4 linked regions of the Homo sapiens genome follow. The protein of the gene in region 4 interacts with the protein of the main gene of each other region in a pairwise test. Each region holds a gene or a part of one and is shown on either strand. Other genes may lie near its edges. The genes, in order: CEP57L1, KIAA1328, EFHC2 and GOLGA1.

Region 1 (7,274 bases), on a different chromosome or scaffold from region 4:
TACTTGAGCCCAGGAGTTCAAGGATGCAGTGAGCTATGACTATACTCCAGCCTGGGTGACATAGTCAGATTCTGTCTCAGGAAAAAAGAAAGAGGCCGGGCACGGTGGCTCACACCTGTAATCCAGCACTTTGCAAGGCTGAGGTGGGTGGATCACTTGAGGTTAGGAATTCAAGACCAGCCTGACCAACATGGTGAAACCCTGTCTCTACTAAAAACACAAAATTAGCCAGGTATGGTGGTGCATGCCTGTAATCCCAGCTACTTGGGAGGCCGAGGACGAAGAATCACTTAAACTTGGGAGGTGGAGGTTGCAGTGAGCCAAGATTGTGCTATTGCACTCCAGCCTGGGCAACAAGAGCAAAACTCCGTTGAGACAGAGGGAGAGAGAGAGAGAGAGAAAGAGAGAGAGAGAAAAGTAGTCATTTTTTAAAAGTCAGATCATGCCCTCATCTGCGCAAAACTCTCCAATGCTTTCCCAACCCAATTAAAAATGTTAGTCCTTTCAGTCACCTACATGTTCTCCTACCATTACTTCCTTTCTCTGTGACCTCATGTTATTCTCCTCTTTGTACTCATTGTGCTCCAGCCACACTAGCCTTCTTGCTATTTCTCAAATGCGCACTCAGGCTTCTGCCCAAGGCCTTTGCACTAATTCTCTTCATTAGAATGTTATTTGCCCAGGCATCTACATGGTTTATTCCCTCCCCTACTTCATATCTCAATTGTCCCCTTCTGGATTATGTCTTTTCTAACAACCTTATTTAAAAGTGAACCTTGCCCCTCACATCCTGGCACTCCCCATTCCCCTTCCCAGTTGTTTTATTCTCCACTGCATTTGTCTTCATTTCATTTACTAAGTGTTTTACATATTTATTTATTATCTCTCCTCAGTAGAATGCAAGCTCTATGACAGTAGGAATTTTTATATATTGTGGTCAATGCTGTATCTTCAATGTCCTGTTATATAAAAGGGACTCAACAGAGATTTGTTGAGTAAACGCGTGGGTGAAATGGAATATGAGAACCAATGACTGAAAAATGGACTGTATGGCTGATCTGGAGGGCAATATATGAAGTTAGTCTGAAAGAGTACCAGATGATGTCAGGCTTTATAAAGGAGTTTTGTCTTTAACAGTAGTAGGACACCACTGAATAGTTTTAACCAAGAGAAAATCTGATCAAATCTGCAGTTTCAAAAAATCATTCTGGCAGATATAATGGAGAACTAATGGAGGAGGGTCATTGTGAATAATTGCTACTGTAGTGGTCTTGAGAGATTATCGCAGTTTGAAGACAGGTGGAGAGAAAAATATATTTGAAGGATATTTTGAGAGATAAGGTTGGCAGAACTTCATAATAATTTGGCCATAGAAGTATGAAGGGCAAGAAGAAATAAAGAATAATGTTTAGCTTTCAAATTTTCACAAGTAGATGGATAGTAGTGTCCTTTGCTGAAATAAGGAACACTGAAAAAGAATTAGATTCATAAGAGATAACTATGCATTTGGTTTTAGGTATGTTGAGTTTGAGATGCTTTTGAGATATCCAAGAAGAAATATCCAAGAGATATTGTGAAAGCTGAGAGGTGAAGCTGAATGGAGCTATTCATTTGAGAGTCATAGGTGTTGGTGAAGCCATGGGTATACATGAGATCATATTTAACTACGGCATAAAAAGGCACCCAGCCTTAAGAAACTACCCGACCCTTTATGGGCTGGATAGAGAATGAAGATCCCAAAAAGGAGATGAAAACGGAATGGTTTTTGTTTTGCTTTTTCAATCACACTCATAAGTTATTCCCTTTTTAAAATTCAGATTCAAACTAGAAGTGTCAGAATGTAACAAGGCTTTTGAAATTAGACCAATTCATCAGAACTATGCATCTATTCAAAAATAGCTCACTTACAGAAACGATGTAAAGAATTCACAATACCTGTCTCTTTGTAGCTTCTAAGTGCATCAATACACAAAAAGCACCCTTCCCGTCCCACCCCACACCGCCAAGTATGCATGATTTGGCTTACTGACGTTTCCTGAAAGTACCCTATCTCTCACTCTGGGCCTTAGCATATGCTGTTCTTTTGGTCTTCATTTCCCCTGGGATGAAGATTTCCCTGACTTTCCAAGATTGGGCTAAGTCATCTCCTTCTAGACATCCCAGTGATATCATGTATTATTGTAACCGTATGTCTAACAACTAGTTCCTCTAACTAGTAAGACTGTCTTTTTCATTGTTGTATACTCAGTGCCTAGCAAGACGAAATTTTTAGAATTTAGTGCAATGCAATTCTGCAATGTAAAGAATTAAAATCTACACCGATTATCAGTCCACTGATGGCCGTTCAAACCTCGACTTTTCTCAAATAATAACTTTTTAAAAGCAAACTAATTTTAAGCAAATGACTGAATCTTTTGAAAAAGTCGACTAAGTTTTGGAGACTTTTACGGTTTTGCTTTCTTTTTCCTGCTGTATCCTTAAAGCCTGCAAGAATTCCTATCTAGGAATACTGGGGATTCTTTTACGAGATGGATTTGACAACTTGCTTTCAAAGCCCTGCCTAGGATTTCATTTGACTGAGCAAATAAAGCCCAGAACATCCCTAAGCAAAGGCAAACAAAGGTGCAAATGCGCGGAGATCCCAAATCCACCCCGCGTGTGTCCACAAAAAAGGGCGGAATCAGAGGCAGCAGCGCGAAGCTCCAGTTTCCACAGCATCCTTCCTTCTTGGCCTTACTTAGGCCGCTCCCTGCGACCCTTGGGATCAGGATCCCAAATCCTTGCCTCACCCACCACACCCCGCGCTTGGGCAGCTGGACTAGTCCTTCCCACGCAAGTCACTGGAAAAAGTCCTTGGACTAAGGGAGGCCACCCTAGATGGCTTTGTCTCCAAAATCCCAGAGGAAATGGAGGAAGGAAAAACCCTGTCAAGGAAAGGTGACAACCCAGCTTACAGTGCTTACCAAGCAGACGCTCTCAGTCAGCCCCTGCCACCGCTAACCGTTGGTTCGCGGGCACCCACAGGCAACGTCGCGGTGGCCCCTGGGGGTTGTAGTTTCTGTCGCAAACAAAACGCGCCGGCAGCATCGAAACTACATTCCCCACAAGTCAACGCGAAGACGTCCTACCGACTTAAATCTGGGGTTTGGAGTAATGAAGAGGCCGTCACTACTTTTAGGGTGATCTTAAATGTAGACTCAATTTCTTCCAGGAGTCCCTTCGCGCCCTCTTTCTTTGTCGTGCTTGTTTTATGTGTGACGAAGTCTCAGTGTACTTCTACGTCTTACTTTTTCCTTCCCCTTCTCCAGGACAGAGTCCAAACGTCCGGGAACGGAAACCGCCTCAGGGCGCAAGCTTAGCGCCTCCGGGGGCGCTTGGCCCAGTTCGCAGTCACGCATGCGTAGCAGCCGGCAGTGGCTGGCAGCCGCGCGCGGCGCACTTGGGGTCCGGAGGGTAGCCTGCCAGAGGGCGGGGCTTTTTCCTAAGGCTTTGCCTCGGCGGGTCGCGTCTGCCTGGGCGGGGAAGAAGGCGCTGGGGCCGGGGCGGCTCCCGGTTTGTGCCGGGCGGAGAAAGGGGAGGGGCTGGGGGTGAGGACCCCGTCTCCACTCCCTGCTCCCGCCCTCTGGGCTGATCCCCACCGATGGGGCTGGGCGAAGGGCGGGCTTTGCGCCTCGGGCCCCGCCGCCCCGCCAGCTCCGCGGCCCAGCCTGGCGCTCGAGGATTGCCAGGGCCGCCCTGTGCCCTCTGGCTCGGCGGTGGTGGGCGAGGGCTCAGGGATCGGAGAAGTAGCGTCTTCCCGGGGGTGCCGAATTGGCGGGGCTGGGGGACGCTTTTTTTCACCGCCGCCCGCCGAGACTACGGCTGCCCGAGACTGCCGCCCTCCGACAGCGCCCAAGCCTCCGGCCGCTGCGGCCAGTGGGCCAGGGTTCGGCGAGCCTTCCCTGCCGGCGCCGGCCGGCTGCTGAGGCGCTGGGAGGAGCTGCGGAGGGCGGGGACTGGTGTCGGAGAAGGGGCGGGGTGGGAACGCCGGAGAGAACCCGGTGGCTGCACAGACAAAAAAGCCCCGAATGGCTGGAGGGCGTTCAGCTGTTAACAGCCTTTTGGGGCAGAGCACGGATTTGACAGCTCCACAACGTGAGGATATCCACTGACCCCGCGAGACGGAGGAGAACGCTTCCCCGAAATTCTCTGCCCACCAAAGCCAGCGCTGCAAGGTTGCAACTTTCAAACTTTGTTTTTCCAGAAAGAAGACTGCCCTTTCGTGTACAAGGAGAGGGTGAGAGGGTGACCTAGCTTGTAGATCGGCTGAAGGCACCAGTGGTTCCAAATGTCACCCAGATGTGTGTTTTCATGACGATTTGATTTCTCTGATTTTATTTTTACATTTTTCATTTTAAAAATACAAAGCAATTTTTTTGGGGCATGCTGAAAGGTAACTGAAGACCGCAAAGGAAAAACTATTGTCATGGCTGAAGGAGAGAATGAAGTGAGATGGGATGGACTCTGCAGCAGAGATTCAACTACTAGGGAGACAGCATTGGAAAACATTAGGCAAACCATTTTGAGGAAAACCGAGTATCTTCGTTCGGTGAAAGAAACACCTCATCGTCCATCAGACGGGCTTTCAAATACCGAGTCTTCGGATGGGTTGAATAAGCTACTTGCTCATCTGCTTATGCTTTCTAAGAGGTGTCCCTTCAAAGATGTGAGAGAGAAAAGTGAGTTTATTCTGAAGAGCATCCAGGTAAGGAAGAGCATTTTAAATACAACTATGTCTCTACTACAGTTAAATTTTACTTGCCGTTATTCACGTTGTGTTTGTTTCTATTAGGTTGTTATGTAAACTTTTATTATGAGTTTACATCTTTAGAGTGTTCTGTAAGTAAACAAGTAGTGTTTTTCTAGAGTTTTAGGCAGAAACTGCTTTGCTCCTGGAAGAATATATGAAAACTACAGTTAATTCCAAGTAAATACTTGTTTTTCCTTATATTTCTTTTTACATGTTGTTGGAAAATGTAGCCAGTGTTTTTTTTTCACATTGTCACAGTGTTCTGAGTGTAAAGGCTCACATTTAAAAGCCTCTAAAATGATAAAGGATATTAAATGTTTCCTAGTCAGCCTGTTCAAGATAATTGGTGGAACAATTTTCTCTTATTTTTAAAAACAAAACAAACCAGGATGTGTTCTCTAAATGCAACCTCTCTTTTTTCAAGAAGAGAATTATATAAAATAATAAAAACCTATCTTAAAAGAAGCTAATATCTTCATGTTGAAAAGGTGGACCCAGGTGGGGTATTTGATAGAAACACTTTTATGGCAAATTGCTCAACTAGCTTTCTCTGTGTTTGCCTGAATTGTTTCTTTTTCACATGTGTAGCTATTTAAGATACGAGTGCAGCAGGTTAAAAATATTATAGTTTTTCCTCCATTTCGTTCATAATTTATCCTGTTTTATTACAAGGTGTCTTAGAATACTTTTTTTTAAGTTTTTAGATATTGACAATATTCAGCAACACCTTATATATGCTTGTCAATCTTTACATTTCTCAATCCACGTGTGTTGTCCAAAGTCCTGTATGAGAGATTTTTAAAATTTAAAATGTACTTGGGTAACTATGTAAGTTAAAAGTGACAGTTTTTATATACTGGCTTGAATTTAGTTTAAAGCAACAGAAAAATAATATCCACAAAATGAAGACTCTATTTAAGATCTTGGGATATTTCTTCTCACTAACACTTTGGAAACAATTGTTACAATTCAGAGTTACCCGAGAGGAATTAATATACTAGGTAACTGAAGTTTACCCTTTGAAACACAAAAAGTTATTTCTCTATCTTCTAGACTGTAGTGACTGTAACAACCATTTTTGTCCATAATGGGGTCATCATTATGCATATCAACTATTGTTGTGCAGCAAAGGGTGGAGGACTGACTATATGATCCATTAGTTTTTGTATTTTTGTGTGTAATTTTTATAGTTTTTCTGTTCTTTCCTTTGCCGTCAGGATACTTGACTTTGGTCTCTTCCTGATCTTTCATTTTGCTGCTTAATTCATATTAGAATGGGAAACCAGATAACCAATCGTGTTAAGAGTTATATTGAAAATAAAAGTAAGCAGGCTCTGGGGAGCATAGTATCAAAGGATTTCAATATAATGATAAATAAGTGGGTACTGGAGTCAGAGTTGGGCTCAAATTCCACTCCTTTACTAATGTCCTTGCCTGTAACCTTGGGCAAATTCCTTGACCTTTCTTAGCTTGGATTTCCACATCTGTAAAATGGGAATAACAACACAGAGCTCTTGTGGGAATTAAATCAGATGTAAAGTACTCTGGTATATATAGTAGATGCTCCTCTCCCTTTCATAAGTGAAATACATAGACTATGCAATATATATTTCAAGACTCTTTCATCCTGCAAAAGGACTCAGGAATTTCCTGGGAAGGTTCCCTATAGACTTATACTCTTTTTTTCCATCTCTGCATCTATTGTACAATTATAAAAGGCAATTTACTTATATTGTGTTATAAGCACATGCTTTTGTGTCTGTCTCCCATAGGAAGGCTATGAGTTCTTAAGAGTACTGGCTGGGACCTGGAAGCTACTAAATAAATATCCAGTGGATGAACAAATTTATACTTTCTTTCTGTTTTTCATCAGTAGTCTGAATAGATGAAGTTTTCAGTTTAGGGAGTTTCCACCCCAGCATCATTCATTTATGCTTGCAGTTATGCAACAAATGTTTATTGAACTCCTGCTGAATGTCATTCTGAGAACTGAGGACCAGTGGTAACAATTTTGACATCATACCAAAGGGAAACAGACCATAAAGAAGTAAACAAATATAAAATTTAATTTTAGATAGTAAGGGAAAGCTTTCCTGAGGCAATGACATTTAAGCAGAGACATGATAAATGAATAAATATTACCCATGTAAAGGTGAGATTTGTGAGGGGACATTCCGGACATAGGGAACGGTATGTATGAAGGCCTCATGCCAAGGAGAGCAGATGAGTTCTAGGAGCTGAAAGTAATGCAATATGGCTGGGGCAGACAGTTTGAGGGTGGCGTGAATAGCTTAAGAGGACATACTCTGGAGTTTGGCAGACCTGGCTGCGATACTGTCATGTGTCACTTAATGATGGTGATACACTCTGAGAAATGCATCGTTAGGTGGTATCATATTTGTTTGAACATCATAGGGTGAAATCACACAAACCTAGATACTACACACCTAGGCTATGTGTTATATAGCCTGTTGTTTCTAGGCTA
Region 2 (7,035 bases), on a different chromosome or scaffold from region 4:
GAAGGGAAAAAAGACACTAGGAAAGAGGTGTGAGCAGGAGAGGGCTCAGAGGTCTTTTTGGTCTTTTGTTTCCTGTACATCTTTTCTGTACAATAAAGCTCAGACTTGCTCCATTCTTTTCCAAAGTCGTTCCTTTAAGGATGCCAGGAAAGATTAAGCCAAAAGCCTCTCCAGGAACAACTGGGAAACAAATAAATTTGCTTCACTCAACATTTAACATAGTTACTTATAATTGATTTCTTTAAAGTCTACCACATATAACAGGAAGTATTATTGACACTTAAAAGACTGTTAGGCAAAAAATGCTTTAGACTTGTGAGGTTTTGCTTTAGTCACAATATGGGGAATTGTCCATGACCTCTCCTCCACCCTCCCCATGTTTCCAGTCAATTGAGGATTAACTGTAGTTGTTAGGGTTTATTTTTCCAGGAGAGATTTATGTTCAATATCTTGCCCTCTTTACTCACTTGGAACATTATTTTAGTCTATGACCATACTTACTGCTGACTAATTCTTAACAGTTATTGCTTGCAAAAAGAGGGACAAGTTGGATACAGTTTTTCATTCCAGTATTCTAAGAAAAACACAGACACAATTCACTAATCTAGTAAATGTGTTACCTGTGGCCTTGCAGGCACACTTCAGTGTGTAAACATTTAACTTTTGCTCAGCATTGTAGGAAATCATCTGAAATTCATTGGCTAGCAACTACCTTCCCCTACCAGTTTCTCATTTTGCCACTACAGTTGTTAAACTTACCTCTTTGGGGTCTACATGTATCTTTCTTTTGACATGACCACTGGGCATCATCTTTCATATGCGAATGAAACCCAACTGTCTTCCTCTCCTTCCTATTCTCTCCACTGTTTGGGGGGTCTTGGTGCTTTTTAATAGATGATGATGTTCCAAGCAGCCAGCCATCACAGTTTGACTTCAATAAACTGAAAGAACAACGATGAATGAACTGTTGAAGGCACAGAAGGGAACACAGAGCACATAGATATTTAAATTCAGTATGGGTTGAAATGCAATTCATTAAGAACTCTCTTTATCTTACCTTTTATTGAGGTATAATTTAAATAATTTACTCAACGTCTATTTTGTGTCCTGTCACAACAATTTTGGAAAAGAAATGGCCTTTATTCTCAAAAAGCTTACACTGGGAGTTGGGGAAATAAGATTCAAACTGATGAAACAGCTAATAAAGTCACAGAATATGACTAAGAACCAGGCTATCTATAGAAATAAAAAGTATGCTAAAACAGGACTTGCATATCTAAGATGTTTTCCAAGTACTAAAAATGAACACTAGGGATTAAAATATCACCAATGTGCCTCACACAAACGCGTTTGTGTTTCTAATTTTCAATTGTTATTAGTATTTATTATGTACCCAGAGTACGTAAGGAGTAGTGTAACAGTGCACGTAGAAGAACTAGACTCCATACTTACATAGTTTCATTAAAAGGTCAACAAGACAAATATAGAATAAAAGGCATTTTAATGAAAATGAACACATGTACATATTTTCTTCTCTAATAAACCGTGTTCCCACCATTAGCATATTTCCTCTTATAATATTTTCTTATTTTAGGGAAAAATATTCTAATGATGTGTTATCTCTCACTATTCCACTCTTCCCTCTTCGTGTTTGTTCACAACAAACTCATGACACTTTGGTTTTGTCTTCCCCATGCCCATAAACAATGTGAAAATTAAAGAAAAAGACATGGAAATGCATAGAGGCAGCTACTCAAAAAACAAGATTCTAAAATTAAAACGTTTAAACTCCCCAGAAGCAAAGGGAATCTCTAGACAAGAACAAGCTGAATGGAGTGTTGCCAGGTCTATCACTTACTCCAGGTGGCCTTTGACCAGGATTCAAATCACATAATCTTCTATAAATGTCTCTGGTTTATATCGATCAGAATTTTTAGCAGTGTTTGCTCATATCATAATTTATTAACAAAAACCAAGAAAGTAAATGGCTTTATGTTCAGAATTATATAAAGAAAATAAAATCATTAGTTATATGGCTTTATAAAGTAGGCACAAGAAAATGTATAAAAGTGATACTCTTCTTTTTTTTTTAAATCAGAACACAGAGACCATTTTCCTCTCAGACCCACCAGAAGATGTATAACTTAGGGTTATACAAATTGCACTCACGGAACAGGGAAATACGGAAAATAAAAGTACCTTATTGTGAATGTTATATAAATTTACGTCAACCCAGAGGCCCCAAACCCAGGCAAATCCAGTGACTACATCTCTGCTTGTTCTGTAGAAAAATGAATGTGACCCCAACCATTGGCTTCCCCAAATTTGATTCATTCTCAGCTCAGCCAGACTCCCAATACTGACTGCCTTCTGCTTCTTTACAGCATTTTCACAGAAGCTTTTCTGTACCTTTATTCAAAATTCCACCTTGGTAATCCTCCATCACAACTGGAAACTTGGCTTCTAATTTCCCTAAAATAAAGATGACTATATGAAAAATTTCTTCCTTCATTTGTATTTATTTCCATATTCACCCATCTACTATTCCTCTCTTCATGTCTCAAAAAATTTTACCTTTTATTTGCACTCTTGATACCATCTTGACCCATCCCCTCTGTGACTATGGCCTGTCAATCATCTCTTTTTCTTATAACTCACAAACTCCTCCTCTAAACTGGATTTTTTCCTAGGGCTACAAACAAGAGCAGATCCTCCATTAATACCCAGTGTCAGTGAGCGTGTGGGGACAAGAGCACTTTAATACCTATTGCAGGAACCACAAATGGGTATCACCTTTTTGTGAGTGACTTGTCAACACAAAATGAAAATGCATCCCTCTTTCAACAGTTCTACTTTTATCCCACACCTGAGGCCAGAAATTTGAGATCGGACTGGGCATCACAGCAAGACCCCATCACTAAAGAAAAAAAATTGTTTTAAATTAGCCAGGCATGGTGGCATGTGCCTATAGTTCCAGCTACTTGGGAAGCTGAGGCAGCAGGATAGCTTGAGCCCAGGAGTTTGGGCTTATAGTGAGATATGACCATGCCACTGCACTCCAGCCTGGGAGACAGTGAGACTCTGTTTCCAAAAAAAAAGAAAGAAAGAAAGAAAGAAAAAAAAAGGAATTTCTCCTGCAGAATTACATGAACAACAGCATGAGAATATTTGTTTAAGGATAATCACTGGAGAATTATTTGTAATAGTGAAAAACTGAAAGCAAATATCATTCTATAAGAGAATGAATAAATTATGGTACATATTAATTATAAAGAACACTATTCAGCCATTAAAAAGAATGAGGTAATTCTTTTTTTTTTTTTTTTTTTTTTTGGAGAGGAGTCTCACTCTGTTGCCCGGGCTGGAGTGCAGTGGCGCAGTCTTTGCTCACCACAACCTCCACCTTCCAGGTCAAGTGATTCTCCTGCCTCAGCCTCCCGAGTGCTGGGACTACAGGCACACACCACCATGTCCGGCTAATTTTTGTATTTTTAGTAGAGATGGGGTTTCACTATGTTGGCCAGGCTGGTCTTGAACTCCTGACCTCGTGATCTGCCCACTCGGCCTCCCAAAGTGCTGGGATTACAGGTGTGAGCCACCACACTTGGCTAGGATGAGGTAATTCTTTACACTGATGAGAAGAAACTTCATGACATGCTATTAAAATAAAAGCAATTTGCAATTATAGAGTATATAATGTGATCTCATTTTTATAAAAATAAAAATATACAAAAATATTTTTAAAGTTCTGGATGGATAAATGTCAAACTAGAAGGGAGTAGAAGAAATAGAGGGAAGAGTTTTATATTTTAATTTATATAACTCTGAATGTTTTAATTTCTTCCAATAGGCATGCATTTTATAATTTAAAAACAAACAAAAAACTCTCACCATGTCCCTTCCATTACCATCTCCTCTCTCCTTGTCTGCTGAACGTCTAGAAAACAATAATTTATTCTAACAGACATACCGACTAGAACTTGTTTTTAAAGAACAAATCAAAAGGCCTTTCTTCTTTGAACAGTCTTGCTTGTTACTAGATCACCCTACAGAAATTCAAGAAATTCAAGAAAACATTTTTTCTTGAAATGTTTTCTCCCTTGGTCTTCATAACACATTATCCTGACTGGTTTTCTGGTTTTAGGAGACTTCTTCCTTCCCCTTAGATGCAGACATTGCAAAAGTCTGTCCCTGTCCTCTTCCCTCTTAGTACTTTCTTGGTGATCCTTGCCACACCTCTATATCTGCAAGTACGATTTCTAAACAGATTCTTCTAGTTCACAGTGCTTGCCAAAACTGCTGACCTGATCAAGTATCTGATGAAAAGCTGTAAAGCGATGTCTATTCCTGCCTCCCAAACCAACTCTTGCTAAAGCAATCCAGTATCTTTATCTTGAAACTACTTCCTCCTTCTGTTTCCATTCTCACTTAATGATATCACCATCCTCCCAGTCACTCATAAGAAATCTCAGTTGTCTCAACTTCTGCTCTCCTTATTCCTTTTTAATAAATTTCCTAATCAATCATTCACTTATATATTCATCAGATATTGACTGAAGAACACACTTTATGGGCCTGATATGTACTGTGAGACTGGGCTGGGCAAAATGGAAAACAAACATTTACAGAGGACTTATTTTATGCTAGGTGCTGGGTATACAAACATGAGAAAGCCCTCGTTCCCATTCTTTTTTTTTTTTTTTTTTTTTTTTTTGAGGCGGAGTTTCTCTCTTGTCACCTAGGCTGGAGTGCAATGGCACAATCTCGGCTCACCACAACCTCTGCCTCCCGGGTTCAAGCGGTTCTCCTGCCTCAGCCTCCCGAGTAGCTGGGATTACAGGCATGCAATCCCATGCCTGTAATTTTGTTACATGCCCGGCTAACTTTGTATTTTTTAGTAGAGATGGGGTTTCTCCATGTTGGTGAGGCTGGTCTCGAACTCCCGACCTCAGGTGATCTGCCCGCCTTGGCCTCCCAAAGTCCTGGGATTACAGGTGTGAGCCACCGAGCCCGGCCCAGCCCTGGTTCCTATTCTTAAAGAGATTTTAGTGGGGGAGACAGACGTGGAAACAGAATTTTTAATACCATATGCCAAATGCAGTAATTCAGGAATATACTGGATGTTATGAGAGTGCAAGGGCAAGGCACCTAACTTTATTTGCATAACAGAAGAGAGATTCCTGAAATACTCAAACTTAACCTTGAAAGATAAGGAAAAATGTAAGAATGTTCTAGGTAAAATAAAAAAGTATTAGCAAATATACCAACAAATGAAACTTCAGTTCATATTTTGGGAAAGTTAAATAGCTAGGTATTGTTACAGCATTAAACTTTGGGTGTGTGGTAGGGAGGAACGGAGATGAAGCAGGTAAGACAGGGCAGGTCAGATCATGAAAGGTTGCGTTTTCCATGCTGAGGGGCTTGAACTCTATCTTGTGGCCAAGGTGGAGTCACTGAAAGGCTCTCAGGAGAAAAATGATATGATCCAACCAGAATTTATGAAAAATTACTCTGGCACCATTTAGAGAATGGGCTTCAAGAAACTGGATGAGTTGGAAGGCTGCTGAAACAGCTCTGGTGAGAGATGAAGGTTTGCAATAGAGAAGCGGTAGTAGGAACGGAAAGACATAGTTTAAGAAATATTTAGGATTTAAAAAGGGTAGAACTTGATGTAAGAGAGAGGGAGAGAAAAGTCAAGAATGACTGCCAGAATTTTGGGTTGATAAGCAATACAGAGGAGGATTGGGGAAGGGTGGGAAAAATTAACTGCAGCTTGAGATGCTTATGGAACATCTGAGAAGATATTTCAAGAAAGTAATTTGATCAGTAACTCCATGGCTTTTTGCTATTGGCTAAGTGAGTTTAGAGGTGGTAGAGTTGAGGGAGGCAGAGTTGAGAAAGAATATGCTTCAATTTCAATTTCCTTGGTGTAGGAGGAGATACAGTCATTCTTGTGAGTGAGTAAAGCAGGTATTGAGAAGAGAGGTGAAGGTTTGGAGTATGTATTGAGGGAATTCGAAATAGAAATGAAAAGAAAAAGATTTTCCTGAAATGTTGAGGCCCTAACAGAAATAGAAATCATCCATTTGTAGCAGGGCTCAAGTGCAGAGATTAAAAAGCAGAGAAAGCAGTGTGAGAGCTCAATCTAGGGTTAGGATTTTTACTGGGACAATGCAGCAGACTGGGGGTCAAGGGAAATAAATATATTAATGTAGTATAGGTCAACCATTCGGTCCAGGAAGAAAGTGAGGCAACAGGGACTGAAAAGACTGGCAGAAAAATGAGGGGAAATAAATAATTTAGATATCCCTTTAAGGTAAAGCGAAAATAAAACAGCAACAACACCAGAAATATAAAAACCCTTGGTATGGTGTATGTGATAAACATGAGAATATAAGCTGTAAAGAAAGAGGCTGGGATGGCAGAGTCAATGATTTTTCTGATGAAACCATGGTGGGTGATAGCAAGCTCTGGGTGTCACCATGGATGATGCTGGAGTGAATTGAGGAACGCAGAAATTCTTTAGCTATGGCAATGGATACATCAACCATATGGATATTGGGATCTCACAGAATGATGGTAGGAGTTATGGGGGAGAAAGTGACTTTAAGTGGGACGTCAAGGTCCTAGTGAGATAATGATGGAAAACAAAGGATGGAAAAGGATGGACTGCTGCAGTAAAACTAGACATATATTTAGATTCACATAAATAAAGAGATATGCAAGAAAAATGCTGGCACTCCTCTCTCTGTTGTTTATCAAATGTGACAGAAAGAATGGCCTCTAATAGAAGTGGTGCTCTCAGAAAAGATGCTGATTTTAGGCAGTGATTCACAGCTTGGCAATACATTTAAATAATCTGGGGAATTTTTAATAAGAGCGATGGACTGAGTCTCACCCACTTGTCGAAACTGAATTAATCAGTCTAGGGTGGGACCTGGATATTATTTGCTTCCCTCTCTCACTCTCCTCTCCTTTTAAAAAAGTTCTATAGGTGATTCTAATGTTCAGATAGGATTGAAAATTACTGAGTTA
Region 3 (4,336 bases), on a different chromosome or scaffold from region 4:
ATCTTTGCAGATATAATTAATTAAAATGAAGTTATGCTGGATTAGAGTGGACCCTAAATGCATTGATTGGTGACTTTATAAGAAAGCTGCGTGAAGACATATTGGTATACACAGAGAACACCATGTGAAGTTGGAGGCAGACGTTGGAGTGATGTGCTTACAAGCCAAGGAATGACTGCCAGCCACCACCAGAAGCCAGGAGAGAGGCATGGAATAAATTCTTCCTTAGAGCCTCCAGAAAGATCCAACGCTGCCAACACCTTGGTTTTGGACTTCTGGCCTTCTGAACTGTGAAAGAATAAGTTTCTGTTGCTTTAAGCCACTTACTTTGTGGTACTTTGTTACGGCAGCCCCAGGAAACTAATAACAGACACTGTCAACTATTACTGAATTTAGAATTCTTAGAACCATCCTTACCTGTATTAGTTTCCTAGTGATGCCCTCACAAAGTACCACAGACTGAGTTGCTTAAAACAATAGAAATTTATTCTTCCACAGTTCTGGAGGCTAGCAGTTCAAAATCTAGGTGTCAGCAGGGCCATACTTTCTCTGAAACCTGTGTGGGAATCCTTCCCTGCCTCTTCCTAGACTTTGATGGTTTTCTGGCAATCTTTGGCGTTCCTTGGTTTGCAGCTGCAAACCTCTAATCTCTGCCTCTATGGTCACCTGGTGTTCCCCCTGTGTGTCTCTGTCTTTACCTGGCTGTCTTTTTATAGGGAGGCCAGTCATATTGGATTAGGGGCCCACCCTACTCCGGTATGATCTCATTTTGCTCATCTTAATTTACCTAATTACATCTGCAAAAACCCTATTTCCAAACAAGGTCACATTCTGAGGTACTAGGGATTAGGACTTCACATAACTCTTTTGCATGAGGACACAACTCAACCCATAGCACTACACCTTTCTTTTGTCACCATTTCAAGTTGATCCCCTTCTAGCTATTTCATGTTCTCCTGCAGCAGCATCTCTCAGAGTAGCTCCTGTCCTCCATGCCCGCTTCAGCCACCCTGGTTATGGCACAGTCATTTTTCTGCGGTATTATAGTACTCACCTCCAGATTGATTTTCTTACTTCATGTCATTCTCTGTACATCCAGCAAGTTAGCTAATCAGTTTCTAATCAGATTTCTGTCATTTCCCTGGCCAAGACCTACCAGTGACTTCCCCTAACCACAGCCTCAAGTATAAACTAGCACAGAAGGCCAGAAGTTTGGCCCCAGCTTCTCCTTCTAACCATCTCTCTTGCCACTTTGCACCATGTGCCGCAAACCACACTGGGCTACTCACCCTTTCTTGAAAATAGATTTTAGATCTCCAGGCCTTTGCTTACGCTGGTCCCTATGCCTGGAATACCCTTCACAACCCTAAACCCTCTGCTGAACTGTTTTTCATCCCATAAGGTGCAACTGAATCACCACTTATTCAGCTTGCTTCCAAAATTCCATCACATCAAATTATTGAGCCTTTACCTATGTTTCTGTGACACCTTGTGATTCTGGATACTAATGTAACACTAGTAAAGATATAGAACCTCTTATATACAACAATTAACCTTGACAGTCATATTTTAACCTTGAAAGTAGAAATATAAGCAACCATATGTATGAACTTTGCCTCCTGTTGATATTAATTAACCATTGAGGCATATGCAAAAAGTTTGTGTGTGTGTATATACACGTATTTATGTATTATATAAAATGTGCATCTGTGTGTGTATATGTGTACACACACACACACAAATAAAGTGGCTTATCTGCAAGATCATACTGTGAGTGATCCAGTGTTCTTTTCATTGTTTACTGAAGAAACAGTAACCAATCAGCCAGTATAGATACCAGTTTGTATTTTAAAAATTGGGTTCTTTAGGCAGCAGTTCACGTCTGTAATTCCAGCACTTTGGGAGGCTGAGGTGGACATATAACTTGAAGCCGGGAGTTTGAGACCAGACCAGTCCGGCCTATATGGCGAAACCCGTCTCCTAGAAATACAAAAATTAGCCGGGCATGGTGGCATGTGCCTGTAATCCCAGCTACTCGGGAGGCTGAGGCATGAGAATCACTTGAACCCGGGAGTTGGAGGTTGCAGTGAGCAGAGATTGTGCCAGTGTACTCCAGCCTGGGCAACAAAGTGATACCCTGTCTTTAAAAAAAATAATAAAATAAAAATAAAAATTGGGTTCTTAAGAAAGTATAGGAGGATCTATCAGCGTATTCATGCTGCATAACAACTCCTTAAATTTCAATGGTTCACAACAAGACACATTTCTTTTTCTTGTCTATGGGCATGTAGGTCAGTGAAGCATGGCTGGATTCAGCTAAGCTTGGCTCTTAGTCCGCAAGTCCAGCCTGGTCTGATCCACCTTGGTCATTCTAAGAACAGCAGCATCCTGGGCCATGTTCTTTTCATGGTGATGGCAGAGGCACAGAAGGCCAAGCCAAATGATGCCAGCACGCTAGAGCCTCTGTCCATGATATGTCTGCTAATAGTACATAGGTCAAAGCCAGTCATGTGGCCAACCCCATATCAAAGGAACAGGAAAATATACCCTTCTTACTCCACAGGAGGTTCTACAGAGTCATATGACAAAGAGTGTGGGCACATAATTCTTATACAGGGAGGGAATGAAGAATCAAGAACAAGTATCCAGTAGACCACAAAGTCCTTATGAACCTAAAGTAGATGGTAGAAATTTTCACTTTGCAAATAAACTGGTGTTGAATTTTCAAAACTGTACTTTGAAATGTGGTTCTAATCATATCCATTTTTGGTTTTTTTCTAGAGATGTGAAGATGTTTGGCTTGGTATGCCATCACCTATTCCTGCGAAATACATTGACTACTGGACCTTTTTGAAGGACGCGTTTGGCTTAGAGGAGGAATAACCATGCCAGTTTTGGTCAATTCTCTATGATTTACTTCTCTCATTTTGCCACATTTACTTTAGTAGATATAATTTCATTAAAAACAAAAAAGAAACAAGGTTTATATTAAATGGAAATCCATAAACCACAATTAATCCTATTTTGTCATGTTAGTTTTACAGAACATCATGTTACATTGCCGACGTACTGTTACTATTTAAAATGCCATCTTAAAACATGTTGAATATTTTTATTATATGTATGGTTTATTAATACCAAAAAATCTTCTGATAATTTTTGATCCAACATAATTTGATTCATTACTATATGAACAGAAAATGACTTTTGAAGGTTATACATGACAATACAAAATCAAATTATATCACAGCAATAAGTTGTGATTCTATTAAACATTTTTGAAACCTTTTTGACACGTTTATTACTTACATAATTAAGTTTTGTAGCAACCCACCTCATCAAAATAATTCTTAAACCTCTCTAGAGTAAATATATTTATCTTTTGAACTTAGTAAAGCTATGGGAAGAAAAAGAACCTCCAACACACACACACACACACACACACACGCACGTGCACACACACTGGAAACATATGCAGTATTTATATTTGTAATGCCCTTTTTTCTATCTAAAGTCAGCTTGTTAGCTTAGGAATATATGCATGTGTGTATAATTATAGTTTGACCAAAACTTTATTATGTCTAAAATATTTACAAATGTGAAAGCTGAAGATTTTGAGATTTTTGTTTTTTTTTTGGTTTGTTTTACACACACATCCCACGCGCCCCACCCTAGAGGTTTAAATATTCAGAAACTACAACATTTTTCCCCTGCATTTTTCTAGTTCTATTTTTATTTTTCTTCAGCAGAACTCTTGTCATGTAGTGTACATTTGATTAAAACCCATAGCCATGTACCTCTGGGAATTCAGTGTAAGAAGTCTATCCCAGTCTATGCCATTGTTCAGTGTTGGATGCTATGTATCATAAATCCATTTGCCTGGTGTTCTGGGAGACAATGGAGGTCTCAAAAAGGAGCTGCACCATTTACCTTTCAGGGACTACCCTGAGAAAAAGAAGAGCTGATGACATCTCAAGGGACCCTTCGGACTCATTATTCTTTCACTCCACATTTGCAGCAGTGTCTTGCTGGCTTCTTGGCACTCAAATGTACCAATTTATTCTCCACAACAATGGCCCTTTCATTTTTAAAAAATTGGAGTTAATCAATAAACGATTTCTATATGTAAGCCTAGGATAATTCCACATGTGCTATTGTTAGAATAGACGCTCCTCCCAACCCTTTCAGGACTTAACACTAAACTAGTATACTCAATTTATATACTAAAACTATCTACCATAAATCCTAAATTTGACTACTTGATTTTTGTCCCAGGTTTTTTTTAAGGCAACTGACAGTGCCAAGCCATTTTGTCACTTTAAGATTTTTCATTCCC
Region 4 (7,035 bases):
GAAAAAAATAGGAATTGTAGATGACACCTAGGTTTGGTTTGTATAACTCAGAGTTTCTCCACCTCAGCGCTATTGACGTTTGAGGCCGGATGGTTCTCTGTTGTAGAGGTTCTCTGTTGTGGATGGTTCTCTGTTGTGGATGGTTCTCTGTTATAGAGGGTCTCTGTTGTGGAGGGTCTCTGTTGTGGATGGTTCTCTGTTGTGGGTGGGTCTCTGTTGTGGGTGGGTCTCTGTTGTGGAGGGTTCTCTGTTGTGGAGGGTTCTCTGTTGTGGAGGGTTCTCTGTTGTGGAGGGTCTCTGTTGGGGATGGTTCTCTGTTGTGGAGGCTCTCTGTTGTGGAGGTTCTCTGTTGTGGAGGATCTCTGTTGTGGATGGTTCTGTGTTGTGGAGGGTTCTGTGTTGTGGAGGGTTCTCTGTTGTGGAGGGTCTCTGTTGTGGATGGTTCTCTGTCGTGGAGGCTCTCTGTCGTGGAGGCTCCCTGTCGTGGAGGCTCTCTGTCGTGGAGGGTCTCTGTCGTGGGTGGTTCTTTGTTGTGGAGGGTCTCTGTTGTGGATGGTTCTCTGTTGTGGAGGGTCTCTGTTGTGGAGGGTCTCTGTTGTGGAGGGTTCTCTGTTGTGGAGGGTCTCTGTTGTGGAGGGTTCTCTGTTGTGGAGGGTTGTCTGTTGTGGAGGGTTCTCTGTTGTGGAGCGTCTCTGTTGTGGAGAGTCTCTGTTGTGGAGGGTTCTCTGTTGTGGAGAGTCTGTTGTGGAGGGTTCTCTGTTGTGGAGAGTCTCTGTTGTGGATGGTTCTCTGTTGTGGAGGGTTCTCTGTTGTGGAGGGTTCTCTGTTGTGGATGGTTCTCTGTTATGGAGGGTTCTCTGTTGTGGAGGGTTCTCTCTTGTGGATGGTTCTCTGTTGTGGATGGTTCTCTGTTATGGAGGGTCTCTGTTGTGGAGGGTCTCTGTTGTGGAGAGTCTGTTGTGGATGGTTCTCTGTTGTGGAGAGTCTCTGTTGTGGAGGGTCTCTGTTGTGGGTGGTTCTTTGTTGTGGGTGGTTCTCTGTTGTGGATGGTTCTTTGTTGTGGGTGGTTCTCTGTTGTGAATGGTTCTTTGTTGTGGATGGGTCTCTGTTGTGGAGGGTTCTCTGTTGTGGATGGGTCTCTGTTGTGGATGGGTCTCTGTTGTGGAGGGTCTCTGTTGTGGATGGTTCTCTGTTTTGGATGGGTCTCTGTTGTGGAGGTTCTCTGTTGTGGAAGTTCTTTGTTGTATTTGCTGCAAATATGCATGATAAGATGCTTAGGAGCATCTACCCACTAGATGTCAGTAGCAGCCCCACTTAGGACAACCACAGTGTCTCCAGACATTGCCAAATGTCTTGTGGGGGCAAAAGCACTGCTGGCAGAGAACCACTGGGGTAACTGAATGAATAGGGTACGTACCATTCACTGAGATGGGGGTCCTGGGAGGTATGTCAAGAGTGGATTCCATTTTGGGCATGTTGAGCTTCAGAGGCCTACCCAACAGGCATATCTAGTAGTCTGTAGGCTGACAAGTCTGGAAAATTGGAGCAGATTCTGAGTAGACATATAAATTAGGAAGCCTGTGTGCCTATAGTTCCAGCTGCTTGGGAGCCCAGGAGGCGGAGCTTGCAGTGTGCAAGATCGTACCACTGCACTCCAGCCTGGATGACAGAGCAAGAACCTATTTCAAACACACACACACACACACACACACACACACACAAAACTTTAAATTAGGAAACCATCAATCAGCATAGCTCATAGGCAAAATTACAGCCAAATGGCTATCAATGAGTGCAGATAGAAAAGAGGCCAAAATGAAGGCCAGGGCCACACCCACAAGCACAGGCTCAGAACAAAAGGAGGGGCCGACAGAGAAGACGCCAAAGGAGCCGCAGGTAGGGTAGCAGTAAAAGCAGGTGCATGTGGGGCTCTGGAAGTACAGGGCAGAAAGCGCTACAAGAAGGATTGAGTAGTGAACTCTGTGATATGCTGCCAACTGGTCAAGAAAGGAGACAAAGAGCTGACCATTAGATTTGACGAGACTGAGTTTGTTGGCAACGCTGGGAAGAATAGTCACCGTAGAGTCGTAGGGAATATGGTTGACGAGAGCAGGTTAAAATGAGACTAGAGAGATGCTTCCACTTGCAGTAAAGGCAAACTAGGTAATTCAGACCAGCTCACCTGAGGACTCCCAGAAAAACTGGCCAAAATAAGAGAACATCTGCTTGTAGGAGCCTACAGGACTGAGGAATGGCCCATCCTGCCCAGGGACGGGAGTCCAGCATGCAAAGCAGCTTTTGCCGTGGTGGTATCTGCTGATCCTGAAGAGGCTGGAAGTTTATCTAAGTTTTTCATAGTTTCTCAGAGTTAGGGGAATAAAATTTGGAGTTTAAATTTTATTAAAGCTTGGATCCAGCCTGGGAGATCCTGAAAGCTTTGGTTAGGCACACCACAGGACTACACGCTAGGAGTAAGCTTGAACGGGAAGTAACCAGCACCCCATCTGCACCCCGCCCCCAGCTTTGATTGCACTAACTGAAGGACACGGGGTGGCCCAGGAAAAGCCCATTAGCTAATTTTGGATTAAAATGATCCCAGGTTATTAGTGCTCCTGGGTGACTAGAAAAAACAAAATCAAAGATAGGTAAACAAAAATACAAAACAACACAAAAGAAACAGACTCACAAGGGCTCAGATATCATATGCTTACTATGTTTAAGGAGATAAAAGACAAAATTTAAAATTTCAGCAAGATGTGGAATAGTTCTATTATTATAGTTATGATAAAAGACAGCAGTTTTAAAAAAGGAATCAAATAGAACTTTAGACCTGAAAAATAGAATAACTGAAATTAATACAATAAATTACAAAAGGACAGGAGGAAGCTTTCTGGGGGATGGGTATTTTTACTATTTTTATTAGGGTGATGGTTTCATCACAGTTCATCAAGGCATACACCTGTAGTCCCAGCTACTCAGGAGACTGGGGCAGGACGCTCTCTTGAGCCTAGAAGGTCGAGGCTGCAGTGAGCTATCATCACAAACTGGACTGCAGCCTGGGTGATAGAGCAAGAACCCATTTCCAAAAACATAAAAATTTAAATGTAAACATATAGAAAACTCTTATATGTTTACATTTAAGAAATACACTTTCTTTTTTTTTTTTTTTGAGATGGAATTTCTCTCCTGTTGCCCAGGCTGGAGTGCAATGGCGTGATCTCGGCTCACTGCAACCTCCGCCTCCTGGGTTCAAGCGATTCTCCTGCCTTAGCCTCCTGAGTAGCTGGGATCACAGGCATGCACCACCACACTAGGCTAATTTTGTGTTTTCAGTAGAGATGGGGTTTCTCCATGTTGGTCAGGCTGGTCTCGAACTCTCAACCTCAGGTGATCCGTCCACTTTTGCCTCCCAAAGTGCTGGGATTACAGGCGTGAGCCACCATGCCCAGCCTGAAATACACTTTCAAATAACCCATAGGTCAAAGAAAAAAATCACAATGGAAATTTTAAAATATTTTGAAATAAAGTTGGGCACAGTGGCTCACACAGTGAGCTGAGATTGTGCCATTGCACTCCAGCCTGGGTGACAAGAGCAAAACTCTGTCTCAAAAAAATAATTATAATATTTTGAAATAAATGATTTTGTAAATACTGTGGATCAAAATTGGTCAAGTATAACTAAAGCAGTGCATGGAAGGAAATTTCAGTCTCAGTGGCATCTCTTAGGAAGAAAGCCTGAAAATTGAGCCATGTATGCATCTCAAAAAGTCAGAAGAAGGCACAAATCAAACTCAAGGAAGAAATAACAAATATAAGCACAGAAATTAATGAAATAGAAAATAAAATGGGCCCGGCGTGGTGGCTCACCCCTGTAATCCCAGCACTTTGGGAGGCCAAAGCGGATGGATCACATGAGGTCAGGAATTCAAGACCAGCCTGACCAACATGGTGAAAGTCCATCTCTACTAAAAATACAAAAATTAGCTGGGCATAGTGGCACATGCCTGTAATCCCAGCTACCTGGGAGGCTGAGGCAGGAGAATTGTTTGAACCCGGGAGTCAGAGATTGCAGTGAGCTGAGATCGTGCCATTGCACTCCAGCCTGGGCAACAAAAATGAAACTGTCTCAGGAATGAAGTGAAGAAGGGAGGGAGGGAGGCTGGGCGCAGTGGCTCAAACCAGTAATCCCAGCATTTTGGGAGGCCAAGGCAGGTAGATCACCTAAGGTCAGGAGTTTGAGACCAGCCTGGCCAACATGGCGAAACCCGGTCTCTACTAAAAATACAAAAATTAGCTGGGTGTGGTGGCACATGCCTGTAGTCCCAGCTACTCGGGAGGGGGAGGCAGGAGAATCGTCTGAACCCAGGAGGCAGAGGTTGCAGTGAGCTGAGATTGCGCCATTGCACTCCAGCCTGGGAAACAAGAGAGAAGCTCCATCTCAAAAAAGAAAAAAAAAAACAAAAGAATGGGACCCTCTCATAGTAGCGAGGACTGCTGAAGCCTGAGGTGGATTATTTGAAGGTGAATAAAATCGCTAAGCTCTGGGTGAGACAGATCAAGGCCATATTTAGTTTAACAGTCTACTTGTTCCATCAGCTACTAAGAAGGGTGTGCTCAGTCTTCCACTACGATGGTAGATTTGTCTCTTTCTTCCTTTAGTTCTGTCTGTCTTTGCTTCATGTATTTTGAAGTGCTGCTATTAGGTGCACATACATTTAGAATTGTTTTTCTCCATCCACGCTCTTCAAAGCAGCTGTTCCCTAAGCCCATCCTGGAGAATCATCGCAGAGGCAGCCGTGCATGGGTGGCCTGGTGGCTTCTGCAAGCTGCAGGCCCTGCTTTGTGCCACAGTGAACCTGAGCAGGCACTGTCAACCCCACCTCCCACAGTGCTGGATCTTAGGTGGCTCTGAGGCGCTAGGGCAGACTTTGGAGCCACAGAGACTCAGTTCTGTCTTGTCAGCCTAGCCCCTCACTAGCTGATGCTTGAAGGAATCCATTTTCCTGCAGCCTTGACCTCCCGGACACAAGCAATCCTCTCGCCTCGGCCTCCTGAGTAGCTGGCACTACAGGCATGTGACACCATGCTCGGCTAATTTTTCTTATTGTTTATAGAGACAGATCCTCACTGTGTTACCCAGGATGGCCTTGAACTCCTGGGTTCAAGCGATCCTCCCACCTCAGCCTCCTGAAGTGCTGGGATTATTGGTGTGAGCCACCGTCCCTGGTCATTACTTCTTCTTCTTTCCATAACCAATTGTTCCAGTCCCCCACTCCATTCACGTGGCCTGCGAGTCTGACTTCTTGTTCTTGGCTACTGTCCTTAGACCAGCTCTTCAGGATAGGCCCCTAGCCTTGGTGTGGGTCCTGGCGGGGGTGCTCGTGGGGCAATCGATCCTCAGTGGTGTGCCATTTCCAGAGAAGTCGGTGGGTTGCCTGCCAGGATAGCTCTGAGAGGGATACTGAGGGCATGGCAGGGAGGGGCCAGGCTGGGAGCCTGGGAAGTGGGGAGCATGTTGGTCTGGCTCTGCAAAGCCATGCCCTGTCTGCTGGGCTTCTTGCGTGGCATACAGCTAAAAAACTGTGAACTAAGTTTTGGGGCTCAGTGGTTTTCTGCATTGTAGGAAGAATGGAGCCAAAGAGAAATTGTGAGCGTGGCCATGGCTCAAGCCCTGGAGGAGGTGCGGAAGCAAAGGGAAGAGTTCCAGCAACAGGTGGGCCCTGTTTCACGCTGAGGGGCGATGTCCCCCTGCAGTCCCACAGGCAGCAGGCCCATCCTGCCGTGAGACTGTTGGAGAGGGCCTGTCTCTCCAGGGTAGGGTAGTAGACTCAGGACTCAGGGAATGCAGTCAGCTGCGTGGGCCCCTGTGCTCTCTAGGAAGCTGGGAGACAAATGTTATAAAGAAACTCTTACCCCATAGGATGCCCTTTTCTGATTTTTCAACTATAATTACCTGGAAAGTGGTCCATGTCCACGGGCCTAGTGGGCTCTAATTCTGTGAGGTGACCTATCATTGCCCACCTGCCCCAGAGGCCACGTAAGGTTGGGTTGAGTTTTTGCAGGAAGTATGGGAAAGCCTCCCTTGAAGGTAGACTTTGCATCTGACCCCAGAGCTTCTAGTTAAGTGGCTTTAGGCCTTTGGTAAGTCCTTAACAAATCTGAGTCTCCTCTGATGAGGACTCTAGCCTTCTACTTACACCTCTGGGAAACTATTCTGTAATGAGGCAACATATATCAAATGCGTGTCTAGTGCTGGGGATGTTGCAGGCACTCAGGAAATGGAAGTTATGACAGCTTGTTGGGCTGGGCAGAATGGCCACGTCTCTGGTTGACCCACTGTTGGCCAGGGGGCAGTGGGAGGCGACTGCCCCTGTGCAGGGCCCCTACCAAGGAGAATAGATTTGTGCATGTTCATAGGAGCAGAGCTTAGCTGGGGGTTTGCTCTGGGTCGTGGACTTCAGGGAGGGATTCGTGGTGTACCCTGGAGAGCGGGGAAGTGGAGATTTCTGTGGGAAGATGGAGTCACTGCTCACAACCTTCCCTCTTGTTGATTTTTCTCTCCAAGGCAGCTAACCTGACAGCCATAATAGACGAGAAGGAACAGAATCTGCGGGAAAAAACCGAAGTGCTTCTCCAGAAAGAGCAGGAGATTCTCCAGCTGGAGCGAGGTGAGGAGTCGGTCCCTGGCTGAGCCTTCTCTCCTTTTCAGGCCCAGCATCCTGCCTTGTGACGGCCTTGCCACCAAGCAGCATGGAGTCACTGGGCTCACAGTGCCCCCTCCCCTCCTCCCCGACCTAGGTCACAACTCTGCCCTGCTGCAGATACACCAGCTGCAGGCCGAGCTGGAGGCCCTGAGGACCCTCAAGGCGGAGGAGGCTGCAGTGGTCGCGGAGCAGGAGGACCTGCTGAGGCTGCGGGGCCCATTGCAGGCCGAAGCACTCTCAGTCAATGAGTCGCACGTAAGTCCCAGCTGCACCTGCATGGGTGCTACAGCAAGATGCAGGGCAGGTGCCGAGAGTGCCCCTAAGGAGGCAG

The links.
Region 1: the proteins of GOLGA1 (region 4) and CEP57L1 interact in binary tests that used the Homo sapiens proteins (3 or more experiments, as listed by UniProt).
Region 2: the proteins of GOLGA1 (region 4) and KIAA1328 interact in binary tests that used the Homo sapiens proteins (3 or more experiments, as listed by UniProt).
Region 3: the proteins of GOLGA1 (region 4) and EFHC2 interact in binary tests that used the Homo sapiens proteins (3 or more experiments, as listed by UniProt).

Annotation. Positions count from the first base shown.
Region 1 is NC_000006.12:109,091,265-109,098,538, reverse strand, and holds the start of CEP57L1 (centrosomal protein CEP57L1), read right to left. Parts: upstream 3,033-7,274; 5' UTR 2,964-3,032; intron 1-2,963. Other genes in the region: SESN1 (sestrin-1), read left to right, coding at 4,466-4,744. UniProt on the Homo sapiens protein: Centrosomal protein which may be required for microtubule attachment to centrosomes.
Region 2 is NC_000018.10:37,154,106-37,161,140, reverse strand, and holds part of KIAA1328 (protein hinderin), read right to left. Parts: intron 965-7,035; coding exon of another isoform or gene 942-964; coding exon 760-941; intron 1-759. UniProt on the Homo sapiens protein: Competes with SMC1 for binding to SMC3. May affect the availability of SMC3 to engage in the formation of multimeric protein complexes.
Region 3 is NC_000023.11:44,147,342-44,151,677, reverse strand, and holds the end of EFHC2 (EF-hand domain-containing family member C2), read left to right. Parts: intron 1-2,781; coding exon 2,782-2,883; 3' UTR 2,884-3,806; downstream 3,807-4,336. UniProt on the Homo sapiens protein: Microtubule inner protein (MIP) part of the dynein-decorated doublet microtubules (DMTs) in cilia axoneme, which is required for motile cilia beating.
Region 4 is NC_000009.12:124,889,067-124,896,101, reverse strand, and holds part of GOLGA1 (golgin subfamily A member 1), read left to right. Parts: intron 1-5,623; coding exon 5,624-5,713; intron 5,714-6,565; coding exon 6,566-6,668; intron 6,669-6,798; coding exon 6,799-6,959; intron 6,960-7,035. UniProt on the Homo sapiens protein: Involved in vesicular trafficking at the Golgi apparatus level. Involved in endosome-to-Golgi trafficking. Mechanistically, captures transport vesicles arriving from endosomes via the protein TBC1D23.